Regions from separate parts of the Homo sapiens genome. Here region 1 is linked to region 2. Evidence: fine-mapped expression QTL. A gene starts in region 2. The other region holds a variant in brackets. All regions are shown on one strand. Distances are between the middles of the regions.

Region 1 (10,730 bases), 360 kb after region 2:
CTGAACACCTGCCTCCAAATCATTTGGGTCAGAAGGGACGGTGCTTATGTAAAAAAAGCGAGGAGTCTGTTTGAGACCTACTGAGTTACACCCTCTGAGATTGTGGCGCTTTTTTTTTTTTTTTTTTGAGATGGAGTCTCACTCTCGCCCAGGCTGGAGTGCAGTGGCACAATCTCGGCTCACTGCAACTTCTGCCGCACAGGTTCAAGTGATTCTCCTGCCTCAGCCTCCCAAGTAGCTGGGATTGTAGGTGCCTGCCACCACGCCTGGCTAATTTTTGTAGTTTTAGTAGACACAGGGTTTCACCATCTTGACCAGGCTGGTCTTGAACTGCTGACCTCGTAATCCACCCGGCTTGGCCTCCCGAAGTTCTGGGATTACAGGCGTGAGCCGCGGTGCCCGGCTAGGACCCGCCCGGCACCATCATTTTAACTGTTATGATGCACGTTATAGTTTGAGACCACTAACCTGGGTGCTGCTTTGAAATCCTCTGATTATGCAAGTGTCATACAAATGGATGTTAAAATAGTCTCAAATATTTAAGGAATCCTTCAGGGATTCCCTTATCCTCAATTCAGGAGATTTTGAAGTGGCTTCCACATTCAGAGCTGCTTTTATCTTTGGCTGAGGCAATATAAGGATCTTTGTGGATGGTATTTAAGGATAGTTCAAATTCATATCTATGTATTTTAGTAGCATGTTCTCTAGGAGCAAATTATAATGCTTTGTTCTATAATGAGTTAATAGCGTGAACATTGTCCTAACAGTCCTGTGACTTTCTTGTTTAATGTTTATACTCATGTAATCAAACAAATTGAAATTGGATTATGGCTGTTGCACGTTATATCAGTTATTATCCAGTTTAAATGCAGGTCTGAAGGAAGTAAAATTGATTTTTCTATGCTACTTGGGGACATCATAGGTTATTGGTATCCTGGTTGAATTTTCAGTTAGGTTTCTATGAAAGAAAGATGAGTGGTTAGGTTTGTTGAATTTTTTTTCTTTCACAGTATTTTGTAAATAAACTGGGATATTTCATTCTAATTAGGAAGTCAGATGCCTTTTAAAAGTTGGGTGATCAGTTTCCATATTTTTATTTAAAGCATGTCTGGCTTTTTAAAGTGTATCATAATCCTGAGTAACATTTTTATTTTTAGAAAGAAAAAAGAAAACAATAGAACACCTTCATAATACTCAGTTACTACAGTAACAGCTACCATATTTATCAGAGAATTAGCTGTAATATGTACCAGAATTTCACACATAATTGAACCTGTCTTTCTGTGAACCAGACCTGTTTTTAAAAACTGCCTTCATTCCATAAACACCGTTTGTGTACCTTTTCTGTACAAGCCCCATGCCCAGTAGTAGGGACTCAGAGTTTATCTAACATAGATATCCTTCACAAAAGCAGATGTTTTATTTTTATTCATTCATTCATTTATTCATTTATTTTAGAGATAGCATCTCGCTCTATAATCCAGGCTGGAGTGCAGTGGCAAGATCATAGCTCTCTGCAGCCTCAAACTCCTGGGCTCAAGCAATCCTTCTGCCTCAGCCTCCCAGGCAGGTAGGACAACAGGTGCAAGCCACCACACCTGGCTAATGTTTAAAAAAAAAAATTTTTTTTTTTTGAGACAGAGTCTCATTCTGTTACCCAGGCTGGAGTGCAGCGGTGTGATCTCAGCTCACTGCAACCTCTGCCTCCCAAGTTCAAGTGATTCTCCTGCCTCAGCCTCCTGAGCAACTGGGATTACAGGCACGTGCCACCACGCCCGGCTAATTTTGTATTTTTAGTAGAGACAGGGTTCCACCATGTTTGCCAGGCTGGTCTCGAACTCCTGGCCTCAAGTGATCCGCCCACCTCGGCCTCCCAAAATGCTGTGATTACAGGCGTGAGCCACCACACCTGGCCTAATGTTTAAAATTTTTTGTAGATATGGGGGTCTCGCTATATTGCCCAGCTGGTCAGAAATACATTTTATTACTACTTAATGCTTCGAAAGCAAAGTGATGGGCCAGAGAACACAAAGGCAAGGGTGACGAGCCCTCGGGAAGTAGGGAAAGGCCTCATGGGAGAGATGGCATTTGTTTGATCTGGACCTTAACTCATAAGTAGGCATTTGCAAAATGGAAATTTGTTATTTAAATCATAAAAGCATTATATTCTGATTACCTGGTCATATAAAAAAATCGGTTAAAAAATAGTAACATTAAATTTAATCAATAGTGGATGTATTAAGCACTTACTGTATGTCAGGAAATGTGCTTACTGCCGAAAATACAACGGGAAACTGCCAAGTTAGAGAATAGTCAATGAGACCACCCTCAGGTTTGATAATTTGCTAGAAGGACTCATAGAGCTCACTGAGGGCTGTGATTATGCTCATGGTTGTGGTTTGTCACAGGGAAAGGATTCTGATTAAAATCAGCCCAAGGAAGACACACATAGGACAGAGTCCAGGGAAGTTCTGAGCCTTCAGTTGTCCTCTCCCCACGGTGTCCTGGGCAGCATAACTTCCCTGGTGTTGCCGTGTGACAATAGCACAGAGTATTGTCAACCAGGGAAGTTCATCCAAGCCTTGGTGTCCAGGATTTTTATTGAGGCTCCACCCCAAAGGCATAGACAACTGGTCCAGGGCTAATCTCAGTCTCGAGTCCCTCCAGAGGTGGAGCTGATACTGCATGGGCCAAGCGCCCACCCCAGATCACCCTATTAGACCCTCTAGTGTATCCCAAGGCCACTAGGCAAACAGAAACACCCCAGTCAGGCACAACATTCCAAGGTGTTAGAGTTTACCTCCCAGAAGCTGAAGGCAGAGGCTCTCTTCAGCCAAGGTTGAATTCTTCACTGTACAGAAACAAAACCAGACTCTGTAAGTTTATAAAGCTCACTGTAAAGTGAAGGAGATGAATAATAAATGGATGATTTTCCAAATATTTAACACCAAGCTGCAGCAGGAGTACGAAGGAAAAGCCTGGGATGCTGTCAGGGAGGACACTGCCTGTCAGGAACATCTTCCAAAGGAATCAACTTTTGGGCTGAGATTCCTAGAAGATGAGAGGGATTCATCAGGTGAGCAGTGCAGGGAAGAGCATTCTAGGAGGGTCACAGTCAGTGCAAAGGCTCTGAGGTGGGAAGTAGCTGGGCGTGTTCCAGGAACTGGAAGAAGAAAAGGGGACTGGAGCAGAGACAAAGAGGAGGGAATGTGGTTGCAGCATTGGAGATAGAAGCAGGGACCTGATCCCAGGCGGCCTGTGAGACCCTGAAAGCGATTATAGACTTTATCTGCATTGCAGTGGGAAGCCACTGTGTGGTTTTAAGGTTCGAGCATGGATACTCATATTTGTGATTTTCGTTTTTGAAGGGACTCGCATTTGTGATTTTTGTTTTTGTTTTGAAGGGACAGGTGTGGCTCCTGTGAGAACAGCTTGTTAGAGATGAGTGGAGGCAAGGAGACTGTTAAAACACTACTGCAGGCCGGGTGCGGTGGCTCATGCCTCTAATCCCAGCACTTTGGGAGGCTGAGGTGGGCAGATTACTTGAGGCCAGGAATTCAAGACCAGCCTGGCCAACATGGCAAAACCCCATCTCTGAAGCATGAGGATCACTTGAACCCAAGAGGAGGAGGTTGCAGTGAGCCAAGATAGCGGCCACTGCACTAGTGAGACACTGTCTCAAAAAAAAAAAAAAAATGACAGCAGCCCTCCTGATGAGATGTTGGCTGGAACTAGGGTGGCAGCATGGAGTTGAGAGAAGGGGGCAAGTTGGAGAGAGCAGGAGGAGGCAGAGTTGGCAGGACTTGTCACACATGACTTCCTGCCAGCAGACCCTCAGCTGTCACACTTGACGTACCCTGTGGACATCTGGCAGACCCATCTATTTGTTGCTTCTGCCCTGCTATAGACAGAGAATCAGACAACCAAACTCACTGGAATGATGTGTAAGGAAGGAGAGGCAGCCTTTGAAGGGGTGACAGGTACAATCCTGTTAACTTGTTTCATATCTCTGAGCTTGCTGCTGTCTGTTCTGGCTGCTGAACCCCAAGTCTTAAACCCTCTTCTAGCCTCACTTGCAGTTTGTGTTGTGTTCCAGACAGTTGTGGTTGCCAAAGCAGTTTACTGTCAATAACTCTTCCAAATAATTGAAGTGTTACTGATCGTAGATTCAGAAACAGCATGAGTTAAATCTTGCCCTCCCTAGAAAGACAACTGTTAACTAGAAAAGCATAATATAAAATTTTCTGCACAGAACCTGGTACTTAGGAGGAGCTTAGTAAATGTTGAACAAATGAGAAAACACCTGATCCTCATTTAAACATGAACATTAAAGTTGTCTGTACACCTGTGGTGTGTTTTACCAAACCCAAACAAGACCTATAGTTAAATACTCCCTTGATTTTCCATGTGTATTTCCTATTTTCTGTTCCTTTCTTTGTAAAAGGAGCGTATGAGACTTTGAATATAGCCAAAAACATGGCTAATATGCTTTGCCTATTTTGCTCTTTTTTTTTTTTTTTTTTTTTTTTGAGACGGACTCTCACTCTGTCACTCAGGCTGGAGTGCAGTGGCGCGATCTTGGCTCACTGCAACCTCCACCTCCCAGGTTCAAGCAATTCTCCTGCCTCAGCCTCCCTATTTCACTTTGTTAATTGGCTAATCAAATAACTTACGCTTGCCCAGAAACAATTAGAAAGAGGAAGTACTTTCAGTGCTCACAGAATACAGTCAGTGAGAGACCTTGGATTTTCCTTTCCAACTCATATATTTATATGACTAGTGGCTAGCCAGGACTCTTACTTAAAGTGCTGAAAGTGCTGTCACTTAGCCAATTGGACATTTTCTGCTTCCATGTATATGGGGGGAGGGGCGCTCAGCTAGAGATGACAATGTTGGGGTGCCTGTGGGATCTTGGCTTCAAGTCAGCTATAAACAAAAGGTGTCTTAAAAGAGGTAGGGATTACAAAAGGGTGTAGGGGTGTACTGCTAAGTGCTTTGTGTAAATTGGCAGATGATCTGTAAACACTTTCCAGCTCGATTCAGAATTTTCTGCCTCTTGAAATCTGATTATTCAGATTTATAAAACTACAATTTGGTTTCTGTCTTTCTGCCCAAAGGCTTTCTGGCTGTGGGCTGCAATACCTCCCTTCCCCAACCACCCCTCCCCGCCCCCCATTTCCCCCACTCGCCCCACAATCAGGATCGTAGAAACCCAGCCTGGTGCGGTGGCTCACCCCTGTAATCCCAGCACTTTGGGAGGCCGAGGCGGGCGGCTCACTTGAGGCCAGGAGTTTGAGACCAGCCTGGCCAACATGGTGAAACCCCATCTCTACTAAATAGGAAAAATTAGCCAGGCATGGTGGCGGGCGCCTGTAATCCCAGCTGCTAGGGAGGCTGAGGCAGGAGAATCGCTTGAACCTGGGAAGCGGAGGTTGCAGTGAGCCGAGATCGTGTCACTGCACTCCAGCCTGGGCGACAGAGCGAGACTCTGTCTCAAGAAGAAAAGAAAAGAAACCAGAAACCCAGCAGGCCTAGAGCATCAACTTTTTCTAAAGAGGTTCAGTGGGTTTGAATGAAGTTTCTAAGTCTTGAGAGTCCAAAAAGGAAACGTTCGTTACAGGAAGGGAGTATGTTGGGGTGGGGGATCCTCCTTGCCGGCCCTGAGCCAGTCCCCTAGCAGCTGGAGCATCTGGCGGGAGCACCTAGCGGGAGCACTTCACGGGAGTGCGGCCGGGTGGGGCGGGGCCACGCGCCTCCCCAGCAGCCAATGGGCGGCCGCGGCGGGCGGGGCAGGGAGGGCGCAGGGAGGCGCGGGCGCCGCTCTCTTCAACTTGAGCCCGGGGCAGT[G/C]CGCGCGGCTGCTTGAGCGACGGCACCGCTGGCTGGTGCCGGCACCCTGGGGCTTGTCGTAGCACCTGGGGCGGCATCCCCGCCCGACTTCGGAAGGACCGGGAGGCAAAGGTGAGGAAGTTGGCGAAGGAACGGCTCTCCTTTGTTTGCAGGTGCGTTCAGGGGGAACGGGGGTCGAGCCCAAGCTCGCTCGCGGGGACAGCGAGGCGGGCGCGGGAGACCTGCGGGACAAAGGCTGCGCCCTCCCTTCCCCGAGTCAGCGCTTAGCGAGTTGCCTGGTCCTGGACGGCTGGAAGGGCTGAAGAGGGGGCTTTCTGCCCCGCCGGTGGGAAGAAGGAGTGAGGCTTGTATGAAATGGGGGGGAGGCGTCCTTGGACCCCCAATTCGCCAGTGCAGCAGGACTGTTCGGGGTGGGCTATTCATTGATGGGGTCTGCACGGGGCATTTCTGCCGTGGACAGCGTTCTATGATTGAGGCAGTGACTGCCTTCGCCTCACGTGCCCCCTGGTGAGGCCACATTTCTGTCTTCCTGTCTACATTAGGACTGAAAGATATTTCAGGGTTTTGGTAATCCAGTATTTGGATTAAAAGCAATATCCTTTCGTGTAGAAAAACTGTGCATTTCCAAATGATTTTAGTTACACGATTTAGGATATTGGTGTGACTTCCATGCGAGAAAATATCTCAAATTCCCCAAATGTAGAAACGCAGCCAGCTCTTGGCATTGAGAAAGAAGTAGTGTTTTTGAAAAGAAAGGCGTGAAGATTTAAATATTGCTTACAACACTCTATTAGCTTGTGGGGGAATCTGTGCCTTTTCTATTATCTGTTTCCCTATACCAATATTGTAACCAGGCACGTCTATGGATTCCTAATTAATGTGTAGCTGTGAATCTTCATTACTGCCTTGGGTGGGAGAAGGCGGAAGGAGGGGGCAATCCCATTAGTCTTTTTCTTTCTTTTTATAACTGCAGCTGCAGCCTGGCTTTGACTTGTATCATGAATGGGGGTTCTGCCTGCTTTCCTCATGCTGTTCTCTTTTAGGTTTTCTTAGGCCATTGAGCAGTTGGCCCTTCCTCCAGCCGAGCTCTTACACAAGAGTAGTTTGTAAGATTCTCTCTAAAGTTCAGATCCTTGCTGCTGCCTTTTAGTTAGTTGAGTTCAGAAAGGAATTATTAAGTGTCCTGAGGCCTTTCCTAAGAAGTTAGAAGCAGAATGTGTTTGTAAATGTGGTCTGTAATTTTGTAAAAGTTATAAGTAAAAGGGAGTGTGAATGAAATGCTTAAGAGGGGAAAGACTTTCCATAAAGCATCAGCCAGTATTATCAAAGAAGGTGTCATGGTTTGTAGCTCAGTAAGAACCCTACTTTCCGTTTTGCTTCCTTTTTTTTGTTTTTTTTTTTGAGACAGAGTCCCTCTCTGTCACCCAGCCTGTAGTGCAGTGGCACAATCTCGGCTCACTGCAACCTCTGCCTCCCAGGTTCAAGTGATTCTCCTGCCTCAGCCTCCTGAGTAGCTGGGACTATAAGTGCACACCACCACACCCGGCTAATTTCTGTTTTTTTGAGTAGAGACGGGATTTCACCATGTTGGCCAGGCTGGTCTCGAACTGCTGACCTTGGGTGATCCACCTGCCTCGGTTCTCCCAAAGTGCTGGGATTACAGGCATGAGCCACCATGCCTGGCCTCATTTTATCATTCTCACTTTGCAGATGTGAGAAACACACTTTTCTAACAGCCGCCACGTTGTTTAGTTCTAGCTTTTCTGCAATGGGGATAATTTATTTAATAAGTATTTATTGGACACTTGCCATGTGCTGGGCATTGGTGCTGGTGATTAAGTGGCATAATAAATACAACAGGTGTCTTCTTCCTTTCTTGGAGCTCACACTATGCTGGCGTGGGGCCCATTGCAGGTTCTCTGCACTGGAGCATCCCTGGGAAGCAGTGTGGATGACACCAAGGTGAGACAAGAAGATACTGCTGCTGATGGCCGCCTTGGAGGTCAGCTGAGCATGTGGCAGTAGGCGCAAACAACGAGGGGCCTCAGGTCATCTGCACTCCAAGGGTGGAAGTATTAATCACACCAGTGGGCCATTGGGCACTAAAGTCGGTCATCTTGAACTTGCTTACTTTGATCTCAAAGGAGCCTGCAGCTGCAAGGAGGGGCAGAGCTGAGTTCTAAAGAGTTTGAACATTGGCATTGTTGATTTCAATGGGGTAATTCCAGTTTGTTACAAAACTATCAGTCATGCAGCCTCCTTGTCTCACCTATACAGCTTTCCTCTTGGACAGCCCCCCTAGGAAATGAATTTCTTTTTCTTTCTTCTTTTTTTTTTTTTTTTTTTGGAGATGGACTTTCGCTCTTATCGCCCAGGCTGGAGTGCAGTGGCGTAATCTTGGCTTACTGCAACCTGTGTCTCCCAGATTCAAGCGATTCTCCTGCCTCAGCCTCCCGAGTAGCTGGGATTACAGGCGCCCGCCACCACACATGGCTAATTTTTTTGTATTTTTAGTAGAGACAGGGTTTCGCCATGTTGGCCAGGCTGGTCTTAAACTCCTGGCATTAGCTTATCTGTCCATCTCGGCCTCCCAAAGTGCTGGGATTACAGGCGTGAGCCACCGCGCCAGGCCTAGGAAATGAATTTCATTCTGTACCACTGGCTGAGCAAAGCTTTACATCTGTCCAGGCTCCCGAGTGTTAAGAGATGACTTAACTGTGTCCCTATTTACTCTCCATATACGTTTCATGGGTTTTTGGGAGTAAACTGATGGCATATAACCTCTTATCTAGGTTTTCACAAATCTCTAGGATCACAGAAAAACATACTAAGTAGTAGTGTAACTTGTCTTTTTAAAGAGCTTGTGTTGAACACAGAATATGACATATTTGAGGAGTTCTTAGACTTTTGGATTCCTCGGGCCCTAACATAGTACCTAGTATAGGATGCCCTCCATAAATAACCCAGTTGATGAATGGGCAGATGAATGAATGTAGATGAAAATACTTCATTGTCTACTTTTAGGGTTTAATTTTGACCATCCATGTGCTTAATATTTATAGTCTAATGGTTAATATGCTGTTCGGCAGATAAGGAGCATCCATGTGTCAGGCACCTTGTGAGGCAGCATGAAGGACTGAGACAGATGAGGTCCCTGTTTGAAGAGGCAGGAGATAAGCCGGAAAAACAATTCAGGAAGCAAGATGATACAGGTTATGCCGAGTGTCTTGAAGACCATCAACAGCGTGATGCAACAGAGTAGCTCAGAGGGGAAAGGGGCCATCAGGAGGCAGCCTGTCCTAGGAGGCAACATTTGAGCTGGGCTTGAAGGCTGAGAAGAAGCCAGCCATGTAGGGAGTGAATAGAAAGCACTGAGGAACAGCTGGGTGTGGTGGCTCATATCTGTAATCCCAGCACTTTGGGAGGTCGAGGCAGGTGGATCACCTGAGGTTAGGAGTTCAAAACCAGCCTGACCAACATGGTGAAACCCTGTCTCTACTAAAAATACAAAAAAAAAAAATTAGCCAGACATGGTGGTGCGTGCCTGTAATCCCAGCTGCTCGTGAGGCTGAGGCAGGAGAATCACTTGAACCCAGGAGGCGGAGGTTGCAGTGAGCCGAGATCATGCCATTGCACTCCAGCCTGGACAACGAGCGAAACTCCATCGCAAAAAAAAAAAGAAGGAAAGCACTGAGGAAGTGGAGCACTCAACGTGCCTGAGGATGAAGAGGAGGCCAGTGGTTTGTGCTGGAAGAGGTGGGTGGGGACAGGATCCTTTAGGGCTTGTGGGCAGTGCTTAAAGGTTTGCCATGAGGTGCCCGTGAAGAGGGTTAACCAGGGGAATGCCATGATCTAGTTTATTTCATACAGAAAGATCTCAGGGAATAGATATTGGGAACAGGAGTGGAAAACGAGGGACCAGTTGGCTAGCCCTAGTCCAGGAGAGATCAGTGACATGGCAGAGGGCATGAAGAGAAGCAGGTGGGTGGGGGAAATGTGGAGGTTGAACTCGCCAAGTTGACTGTAGAAGATGCAGGAAGGGGTGTGATCTAGGACCATACCTGATTTCTTTGATGCGTTGTTTATGTCTGTAGAAAATACATGCTAATAGAAGTAATAACTGTTCGAGGACAAAGTTATTAAGCCATGGAACAACTCCCTTTACATTTATGTTGTATCAAGACCTTGATTTAAGCCAGACACGGTGGCTCATGCTGTAATCCCAGCACTTTGGGAGGCCGAGTGTCCCCAAAGGATCACTTGAGGCTAGGAGTTTAAGACCAGCCTGGGCAACGTGGCAAAACCTTGTCTCTGCTGAAAATACAAAAATTACCTGGGCATGGTGGCACATGCCTGTAATTCCAGCTACTAGGGAGGCTGAGGCACGAGAATCTCTTGAACCTGGGAGATGGAGGTTGCAGTGAGCTGAGATCGCGCCACTGCCCTCCAGCCTGGGTGACAGAGAAACACACTGTCTCAGAAAAAAAAAAAAGACTTTGACTTTCTTTTCTTTGGTTCTCCAGTGTAGATGAGCAGACGTATCCATCCAGTGCAATCTTGTGTATTTGGCCATTTTTCCAAGATGTTTTCACCCTTCAGTACCCTTTCTGTCATTCTCAACTGGTTATGAGACCTTTGAGCATTTTTCTTTGTTCTGGCATGAAAATAAAGAATCAGACTAAGAAGAGAAGATGGGTTTAAGCCTTAATTTATATGGAATTATTCTACCTTTGTTCCCAGTTTATAAGAATCCATTCATAATTACTTTTTTTTTTTTTTTTTTTTGAAGACAGAGTTTTGCTCTGTCACCCAGGCTGGAGTGCAGTGTCACGATCTCGGCCCCCTGCAGCCTTCGCCTCCCGGGTTCAAGCGATTCTCCTGCC
Region 2 (10,730 bases):
GTTAATTCTAACTGATTTTAAGTGATTTCAGATTAAATAAGCATATGTGGCTAGTGACTGCCATATTGGATGGTTTAGGACTAGAGAAACCAGTCAGGCGTAGAGGGTTCATCAGAGAAGAGGCCTTGCTGGTACCCCTGAAAAATCACTCGATATTTGATCATCTGCCTCATACCTCTGGGTAATATTGGTCCTATATTTGGGGACCATAATTTATTAGCTAGCAAAAGGTTTTTTCCTAGTGTGGACTACAAACTTATTTTACTATGTTTTATCTTTAGGAGAGTAAGTACAATACTCCCTCTCCTTTCTTATCTGAGAATCATTATAGTCATTTTCTCTGTATTTACATTTTTCCATACATAGTATTATTTAAGAGCTCAAGCTCCAGGAAAACTGCCTGGGTTCAAATCCCAGTTCTGCCAATGAATATTTTGTGCCTTGAGTTAGCTGCTTCACATTTGCAAGCCTCACTTTCCCTATCCATAAAATAGGGATAATAATAGTGCTTCATTTATAGGGTAGTTGTGAGGATTGAGTTAAATAACCTATGGAAAATGCTTAGCCAGTATCTGGCACATGCTAAATAGTCAGTAAGAGTTAGCTATTCTAAAACTAGTACCGTGTGACAGTGTGTATTTTGTACCTCTGCATTTTGACATTTACTCAACTCTATTTTTGCTTCAATAGAAGGTGTTCCTCCAGATCTCTGTCAGAACATTCCAAAAAGAAATTCATTCCTCAAGATAAGAAGGTAGACAGAGTTTTGAAGAATTAGATTTTATCTTATTGCAGGCATGAGTTTTGAGTTGTTTTTTATTTCACTTTGATTACTAAATTGTTAAAGTATTTAAAATCATTACAGAAGAAAATCATGACCGTGATATTTTGTTGTGATCATTAAAATTCCCTTGGTTTAAGCTCAAACCGTTGCACATATACCACACAATCAAATAATAATACTAGAAGTTCTTAATGTTGGCACAGAAGATTTCTTGATGTTTTGTAGTTATACTGTTTTTTTTGTTTTGTTTTGAGATGAGGTCTTGCTGTGTGGCTCAGGCTGGAGTGCAGTGGCTATTCACAGGCAAGATCCTACTGCAACTTTGAACGTCCAGCCTCATGTACCCTCTTGCCTCAGCCTCCCCAGTAGCTGGTACTACAGGCTTGGGCCACTGCACCTGACTCATACCTGTTTAATTGAAATATTTAATTCCTAGACTCTGGCTATTCAATGCCACTTAGAAGTGGCTGGATATTTGTTGATCATGGACTATTTAAAGACTAATGACGTCACAGGAACAAGTAATAGGATCCCTTTTGTTGTCACCTATTTTGTATTTTGTAATCTTTGGATTGTAAAACTGCATTGTAATATAGTATTGCACTCCCTACGGTGTTTGTGCAAAAAACATTTTTTTTTCCCCATTAGATTGGAATTTTGAGAAATCTGGCTTCAAGTGCCAGTTCTGCCTTTGGTTTGTCTAAATAAAGAAGTCATTTATTTCTCTGGGCCACAGAGAGGTAAATGTCATCTGTAAAGTCTAAGAGTTGATCTTGATTTGATTCTAGAATGGTCTTGAGGTATCCTTCCAAATAAAATTCCTTGGATCTGCCTCCTTCCCCCAACTCCCTAGGAGGACCTTTGGCCTTAAGGGACTTAAGAGAGGTCAGTTTTATCTACTGTTCACAGCGTTTACTTCCATGCTTTAAAAAACATGCTCTTGGAATATTCTTGGATATTTCATTTCCTTGGAAAACAATTAATGGGTGAGTCAGCATGAAGAAAAAAACCCACTCACAATAGATATAAAAATTGCATGAAGTGGTGAAACGAGAAATGATTTTCTTTGTAAACTGAAATGATGAGGTATGCAGAAACCAATTACGTATTTATAAAATGAGCGCGCGGTGGGAAAGCTTTATGTAGCAAAGCTAAAGTGCTGTTACATATTTAGCAAGACAGAGGGCATGGAGATTCCTCTCCATACTGCCTTAAAACTGCTGTTAAACGTTCCTTTCAGTGAGAGAGACAATGTGTTGGGAGGCGGACGAAGGAAGGAAGCAAGGGAAGGGTCAAAGCCTTCCCTCCGGCCCCGATCAGTCCCCTCTGTAAATTCATAATTAAGGGAATTTCCTCCTGCAGCTGCGCAACGCTTGGTGGCCGTTTCGACGTCACTGTCAGGGCATTTCAGGGATTTTGTGTGCCCAGGCAGTGACTTCCCGACTTCTCCGGCGTATCCCCGACGGGGCGCAGAACACCGCCCGTGGCGAAGTCGGGCCGGGGGAGTTTGGGAACCCGTCCCCGGGAGCTCAGCGGCCAGAGGAGGGCGCGGAAGTGTTTCCTGGGTGAGCGCGGCAGCGGGACCCGTTTCCGGAAGGCTGATTGCATCAGGTGTGGAGCAGGGCGCCTCCTCGGCCCAACCTGGCGGCCTCTGCGCCTGCGCGCGCCGCCCCGCCCCCCCCCCCCCCCCCCCCCCCGCCGCCGCGGACTCCACCGCGGGTTTTCCTCTCCGTCGGGAAGAGACCGACCTGGGAGGGGCAGGCTCCGCTCACCTACCCCGGACCCCCGAGAGAGAGCGGGGTGGCCAGGCCGGGTTCCGGGGATCTGAGGGGAGCTGTGAGGTCCGGGAATAGAGTGCCTTGGAAAGAGGACCCGTCTGCAAGGTTGGAGGCTGGTCGATCTCCGCTCCTGACGGGAATGGTGGTCTTGGGCTGGTTTCCTTGCCTCTTTGGCCTTGAAGATCACAGACTAAGAACCACAGGCTCTCCAGTTCAGAGAGCCTGTATTTTCCCCAAGAGGTCTACTGTGGCCCTCGACTGTCCTTGGTCCACGGACGTGTTAGGTGGATCTTGGGGTGCAGAGACTCAGTCCCAAGAGTAAACACTTTTCATGAATTTATAGGGATTTCTCTGTGACAGTATTGTTTTTATGTTGTAGGAAGGAGGGACATGATTGCTGGCCTCCAGCTCGGTCTGAGGGAGATAATTGTTAATTGGAGAGGTTATTGGAGTGCAAAAGTCAGAAACCACCTTCCACAAGGCAGCCCCCCTCCCATCCCTTCGTAACAACCTCACTGAGTCTGCATGAGGGTCCCTCTATACACTCTATTCGCACCTTGTGCATTTCCCTCCCAGCACTCTACCTGTTTGAAATAACCGTTTTGAGTGATTATTTGATAGGTGTCTGTCACCCGGCCGGACTATAAATTCCATGAAAGCAGGGGCCTGGGCTTTTAAATTCACCACTATCCTCAGGCCTAGTACAAGACCTCGTGGATCCTTAATAAACTCATGTAGGAAAGAATAAAGTAATGCCCACCCCACTGCATAGAGTCCTCATAGGAAGAATCACGTGAGTTTTTAATTCGAGATCCTTGGTAGGACTGTGTGTGTGTGTGTGTATGGGTAGGGTTCTCTAAAGTGTATAGTCCTCACACCAGCAGCATCAGCATCCCATGGGAACTTGTTAGATATACAGATGCTTGGGCCCCACCACATATCTACCCATTCAGAGACACAGATTGGGACTCAGGGATTTGTACTTCAGCAAACCCTCCAGGCGATTCTGATCCAGGCTCCAGTTTGACAACCGCTGCCCTGGTGAAGAGCAATCCTAAGGATACTTTGGGGATGTCATTCACAGCGTCTGGGGCAGAGCACGGTTTACCGTTTACTGAGACTCGACTCTTATCAGGGCTTTGTTTGCACGCTTACAATTAGAGTTATAGATAATATTATTGGCAATGGAAAGGAAAACCTCCTTTTCCTCTCCGGCAGTTGTATCTCTCCCCTGATATTATCTTGTGATTTCCGGATCAAAGAAGAGTGTGTGTGCGGCATATGCCTGGGGGTGGGGATAGGAGGTAGAAGGAAGGAGAAGGTGTCGCCTACAACTTGCAGTTAGCCTGGGTGGGTGTGGGCAGCTCTCCTGTGGGGACATTTTCCTATTGCAAGGGAATGCTGGCGTGTGGGAGAAAAGCCAGGGCTAAGGTAACCCAACTGCCTTTTGGTGCAGACAGACACCAGCCACACGGAGGGGATACCCGGGCTGCACTGCACGTCCTGCCTTTGGGTCTTACTGGGGGACCCATTGCCTCCCTGCGTGTTCCCAGGCGATTGGGGAGGGTGCCTCCCGCAGGCCCTGCCGCCTCCACCTGCAGGGGTCGCCCTGGGAGCGCGGCCCGCCTCCTTCTGCCCGGCCCCCACCCCCCGGCCCCGCCTTTCTCCCATTCGGCCCCCTCCCCGCCGGGTCCCTCCAGCCTTCCCTCGCGCAGCCGCTGCCAAAGCCTGGAGAAGTGGAATCTCGTCAGCGCCGCTCCCTGCGCGGGACTCGCGGAACGGCACTGAGCATGCTCAGTTGCCGGAGCCCGTTCTGGTCTCAAGTAGGAAGCTAGTGCGCTGTAACCGCATCTGATCTGGGCGCTCCGGGAAGGGCGAGACTGGAGCAGAGCCGCTGGGCGCCGGAGCCGAGGCGAGCGCCGCGCGCACCACTGGTGAGCCCAGCTTTCTTCCTTGCCTTTGCCCCGGATTCCGGGGCAGCACGAGAGTGCTGGGGAAACACCCGGGTAGCGGCAGCAGCGTGCGGCGAGCGGCTGCGGGTTCCCCCGGCGGCTTCTCCTCTGCTCCCGGCCCCGGGGCTCCGCGGCCACTGCTGCCCGCTCAGCCGCAGCCACACCTGCAGCAGCTGCCGCGGCATCTGCAGCGGGGCGCCTGCTGCGGAGTCCCGTGCGCCCTGCGCCCGCGCCGCAGGGCCAGTGGCACGGCGACTGCGGGCTCACTCTCCTTGACTTCCATCCCTCCCGCTTCCCGGCGCCCTCTTTCCCTCAGCAGCCCCGGCTTGGCAGGGCCTGGGGCGGGGGAGACCGGGTTGGAGGCGGTGCGCCCGGGTGGGGACTGCAGAGGGGAAAAGTGAGGGTGGGCGCCTGCGGGAAGAGCGCACACCCCCTTGTCCTGGCACCGGCCTCCGCTGTGCCGCTCGGCTGTCTCTCCTGGGCGGCAGCGCGCTCCTGCCGGGGAGTTGGAGCCGGGGTTGGCTTCTCCACGAGGGGTTCAGAGGCCAGCCCATGAGACATGAAAGGGGGGAAAAGTTCCTTTTCCCCCTCGGTGGCAGAGAGAGCGTTTAACTAGAAAATGGCTGTGCATAGGGGACCGACTCCAGGAAACTGGCCACTGGGACCCGAAAGCCCCTGCGCTGCCCACCGGGCGGAATGGAGGGTGGTACGCTAGAAATGACATTTGTGCGGCGAGAACAGAGCTGGACGGAGGGAAGGATGCTGAGACCCATAGAAACAATGAAAGGTGGTCTTCACGTCGGTGAAGTGGTGTAGACTACGGGTTCGGGGCAAACAGCCGAGGGAGCATGGGACTAGAATTCAAAAAAATAAATTAATTTGGATAAATCATATGTGGAGTTGTCACCGACCGTTCTGTAGTCAAGTTCTGCGCGGTTTTAGAGCCACGACTGTCACAGACGTTTTTGGATGGATTGAGTGGTTGAGGAGGGTTAAAATTGAGAGGAGAATAAGGTCAGTGTCGGAAGCTCCAACTGGGCTCTCGGAGGGGACAGTTTGTTTAAGTCCCTCAGTCACTGGCTTTACATTGTGTCTAATTACTTACGTGAAATACCCAAAGGATTATCATAAAATGATGCCATCGGTGGTGTTTGAATTCCAAGGAATGAGGAAACTTTGTGAGGTTGGCATGGGTTTATCATTTGTTTTAATATTTCACTGATTTAAAAAAAACAAACACAATGGCAGTTTGATCTGTTGTTTCTGGAGTTTACTCTCTTAAATCTTGCTTTTTTTTTTTTTCTTGTCATGGTTTCAGATTTAAAATCTTGTCCCCAAATGGCCATAATAATGCAGAGTATTAGAATTTGTGTGGCTGGCCTTTTAGGAACAGATGGAATCCTTGAAAGGGGATTTCTTCATGAACTTAGGTAGCAACCTTCTCGTTTTCAACTTGTAGCTTGTAAGCAATATTTGTTCAACAGTTGTTTATCATAACTTGCAACATCCTAGAAATGGCATCGTTCGTGAAGGATGGTATTTGTGGCGAGAATGGGGAAACCTCCAGGCTGGGGAAATGCCGAGAGAACACAGGTGGCAGTAGAGTACAGTGGGTTGATCATAGGGCGGAAGGTGGTGGGGTACAAGTACAAGATTTCAATTGCTGTTCTTTCGTTGTCCATGTACTGTATGACCCCGAAGTCACCGACAGTCTTCGTAAACTGGATGTAACCACGTCTCTAGATATTTGCTGAGAGCCTTTGAGAGACGACTCTAAAGTTGAGATCCTTTCCACAGAAGGTTTTTAGGTCCTATGCTTTTATTCCCTCTTCTAATGGATACTTTTAACTGAATAAATTCACCTTCAAGGAGCCAATGTGAACTGGCTTTCTGAAATTTTTATAAAGTGGTAATTGAAAAGCTGGATGGTGAGGTGGGAGGATTGCTTGAGCCTAGGAGTTTGAGGCTGTAGTGAGCTATGATCACGCCACTGCACTCCAGCCTGGGCAACAGAGTGAGATCCTGTTTCTGAAAAAAAGAAAGCTTGATGAGCTAAAGTGCAAAATACTGGTGTTTACACTTAGCTGGAGTAATGTGAATACTGACTCCAAAATTACTTGGGAAAAAACTATTGCATATATTGTAAGAATCCACATGTACAAACATAAAATATTTTTAAACTGGTACTTTTTGTCATGTTTCAACCTTTTGATGACTGTTTTCTTTTCCTGCCACCAGAAAAACAGCATATGAACATTGAATTCTTTTATTTTTCTGTTACCACAGGAATGAATACTGAAAGCCTTGTCATAATATTAGAATAATGATGTGTGTGGACTATCCTGAGTACTGGATATCTAAATTTATCTTTTAAGAAAAATGGAAGGGAGAGCATCAGGAAGAATAGCTAATAGATACTGGGCTTAATACCTAGGTGATGGGTTGATCTGTGCATCAAACCACCATAGCACATGTTTACCTGTGTAACAAATCTGCACATCCTGCACACGTACCTGGAACTTAAAAGTTGAAGGAAAAAATAAGAAAAATGGTATGTCGTGTCTCTGTACCTTTTTCAATTTCATTTTAAAAATAGACAATACCTGGCCGGGTACGGTGGCTAACACCTATAATCACAGCACTTTGGGAAGCTGAGGCGGGCAGATCACTTGAGGTCAGGAGTTTGAGACCAGCCTGGCCAAGAGGTAAAACCCCCGTCTCTAAAAAAATACAAAAATTAGCCGGGTGTGGTGGCTCCCGCCTGTAATCCCAGCTACTGGGAAAGCTGAGGCAGGAGAATCACTTGAACCTGGGAGGTGGAGGTTACAGTGAGCCAAGATCGCGCCACTGCACTCCAGCCTGGGCAAAAGGGTGAGACTCCGTCTCAAAATAAATACATAAATAAAATAAATAAATAAGTAAATAAATAACAAAACAAAACTGGACAATACCCTTGTGATATAACACCTTAAGTTTTCCGGGGGCGGGGGAGGGGAGCAGGTGGGACAGACTTTTAGGAAAATATTGTAATAAGTTATTACTGGTTATGGGGGGAATACTTATTTTCCTACATGGGGTTAGGAAACCAGCATTTGTTCAGTGCCTAGTATTATTATTATTATTATTATTTTTGAGACAGAGTTTCAGTCTGTCACCCAGGCTGGAGTGTAGTGGCGCGATCTTGGCTCACTGTAACCTCCACCTCCCAGGTTCAAGTAATTCTCCTGCCTCAGCCTCCTGAGTAGCTGGGATTCCAGGTGCCCGCCACCACGCCTGGCTAATTTTTGTAATTTTAGTAGAAATGGGGTTTCACCATGTTGGCCAGGCTGGTCTCCAAGTCCTGACCTCAGGAGGTCCACCAGTCTCGGTCTCCCAAAGTGCTGGGATTACAGGCGTGAGCCATCACGCCTGGTCTGTTCAGTGCTTTTTATGTGTCCTATTATCCTATTAAGGTTTTGTATATATCATCTTATGCTGTAAGCATCTATGCATAAATGTCAGCTGTCTAAGAAAACCCCTCTGAAAAGGTAGATGCTCGTGATTTCACAGCAATAGAGCTTTAAACTTTTATCTTATATGAAAATATCTTTAATTGATTCCATTATTATTCAGTAAGCATTCTCTTTTAAAGCATCTTTGATTTGTTATTTAGAATTAAATTTGATTGGAACTGCATATCTTCAGAATGATTTGAATGTTTTCAAGAAGGTTCTATCCAGATTTTAAAACTGTTTTGTGTTCATTTATTTTCAATAATGTTGCACTACCAACAAATGAAATTAGATGTCAGAAGATAAACCCAGATTAGCCATTTTGATTTTAATGTGTTATTAGTGCATATTCTGCATGCTGATATGTGTTGACGGCATTTCTCTCAGCCGAAATGGTTTGTCAGAGGCAGAGTAACAGACTCTCCATAATAAAGGGTCTGGGGGGATTTGGAGGAAAGACTACTAACCAGGGACCCCAAAGACTTGCCTTTGGGGCTGGCTTGTCCCTTACTTCAATTCACTGTGTTACCTGGAAAAAGTCAGTTATGTCTCTGGGCCTGTTTTCCCATCTGTAAAATGAGAGAGCTGCAGTCACCCTCTGGTTGTCTATCGGGTCCTTCTTGTCCCAGTCTAGAGATCTGTGATGCAGCCATTCGAGGAGAGAGGTCTTCGTTTAAGAGCAGGGGTCCCCAGCCCCCTGCTTCGGACCTGAACTGGTCAGTGGCCTATTAGGAACCGGGCCATAGAGCAGGAGGTGAGCGGCGGGCAAGTGACCTTTACCACCTGAGCTCCACCTCTGTCAGATCAGTGGTGGCATTTGATTCTCACAGGACTGTGAACCCTGTTGTGAACTGCACATGTGTGGGATCTTGGTTGTGCACTCCCTATGAGAATCTACTGCTTGTTGATCTGAGTTGGAACAGTTTCATCCCAATCCCCAACCCCATCCGTGGAAAAATTGTCTTCCATGAACGCTGTCTGGAGACCACTGGTTTAGAGCATTATTTGGAGGTGATTTTGTGTTTCCCTGTCTGGTTTGTCACTGCTTTGTCCAATGCCCTTCTTTTTTTGCCCAATTCCTACTTCCCTTATAGTTTTCATTTGTTATAAAATGGTTGTCATAAAATTAACTTTATGGCCCTGCCAGTCTAGTTAGCAGATAAGGTAATGATTAGATTTGGGTAAAGTGTATTCGACATTTGAAACTACTTCATAGCATTTTCTGCGGGGAGACTTTCTGCTCTTGAGCACACAGATAGTCTGAGAAAGAAACCTCTACCTAGGCTGCAGGGGAGGGGGTCCTGTGCTTTGCTTCCCAGGCCCACCCTTGTGAAATTTTGGCAAGCCTTTCCTGTGTCCCAGCCTTTGTCTCCTCGCCTCGATGAGAAATGCAGCCCTTGGTCTCTGGAATACGACTTTCACTCTCATTTGACGTTAGCCCTGTCACTGTGTTGGACAGATGCCTGTGATTGGCTGCTGCAGTAGCAGGAGTGGTGGCTGGTGAAATGTGTCTACTCAGTGTCATTAGCAGGATCATGAGCTTTTTTTTCTTTTTTCTTGGCAAGCTGCGATGGGGCAGAGAGCAAAGGAAACCAATCCCATTTGGTGTTTTTAGTGCATTTTGCTTTCAAGAGGCTCACAAAACTCAGCCTCATTAACCTTTAAGTGAGTCAGTGAGGAGTTGTTATCCCATTGAAATAATTTTTAATAAAGGGAGAGTGACTCTAGTTCCTCTAATAACCAGGCTCCAGGGTTCCTGGACCCCTGTTAGGAGTGGGTCATTAACTCCAGACATTAGATGAGAGCTGGGAGAGAGGAAGGGCATAGAGGGTGGAAGGTCAAGTCACACAACTGGGCAGGAAGTAAGAAGCTTGATCAGTTTAAAGGTATTAGAGCTCTTTGTGTGTAGAGTTACAGGAGATATTCCCTTTCTATATAATTTATTTCCATGGTGTTTGAATCTTATCTTGTTTTCTGTAATGGACGTATATTTATTTTATAATCAGAGAAAAATCCCAATATATAATTTATTGATATATAAAATGTACAGATTCACATGGACAAATACGAGAAGAGAACATGGAAAGAAATGAATGGTATAGAAAAGGATGGATTAAAGCTTTTCTTTGTTGTTGGTTAATGACTTGACAGTGGTTATAAACAAAGTTTACCAGTTCTACCCTCTCTTTTCCTCTTGTGGAAATCTTGCAAACTTTGTTTGCTAGGTAATAACTGAAGTTCCCGAAGTGTAACTCATTGGCAAGTATGCTTCAGGAATGCTTAGAGTGGGAGGAAGAGTGTCGTTTTTTTTAAGTTGATGAAAAAGAATGCAGAAACCGGGAGCAGTGGCTCATGCCTGTAATCCTAGCACTTTCGGAGGCCAAGGCAGGTGGCTCACTTGAGGTCGGGAGTTTGAGACCAGCCTGGCCAACATGGTGAAACCCCGTCTCTGCTAAAAATACAAAAATTAGCCGGGCATGGTGGCACACGCCTGTAATTTCAGCTACTCAGGAGGCTGAGGCAGGAGAATCGCTTGAACCCAGGAGGTGGAGGTTGCTGTGAGCTGAGACCGCGCCACTGCACTCCAGCCTGGGTGAAAGGGCGAGACTCTGTCTCAAAAAAAAGAATGCAGAATATTGGAATCGAGGTAGAAGGAAAAACGTGTGTTTAAGAGGGTGAGATAGATTGGAGAGACTTTGCGGAATTCCAGAGGGTAAAGGGAAAT

Evidence for each region.
Region 1: its variant is fine-mapped to the expression of APBB2 in whole blood (TOPMed, PIP 0.91).

What each region holds. Positions count from the first base shown.
Region 1 is chr4:40,852,254-40,862,983 of GRCh38, reverse strand. The region is part of intron 12 of APBB2 (amyloid beta precursor protein binding family B member 2); the gene reads left to right. Among named protein-coding and RNA genes, the nearest start is that of NSUN7, 110 kb to the right of the region's middle. RefSeq lists a silencer at 5,665-5,864. The variant G/C (reference allele first, on the strand shown) is at 5,848.
Region 2 is chr4:41,208,171-41,218,900 of GRCh38, reverse strand. It overlaps APBB2 (amyloid beta precursor protein binding family B member 2), which reads left to right and starts at 4,359. Exons shown (of 18, transcript NM_004307.2): 1 at 4,359-4,496. RefSeq lists enhancers at 2,048-2,297, 1,605-2,419, 5,987-6,066 and silencers at 2,428-2,477, 4,095-4,264, 4,675-4,984.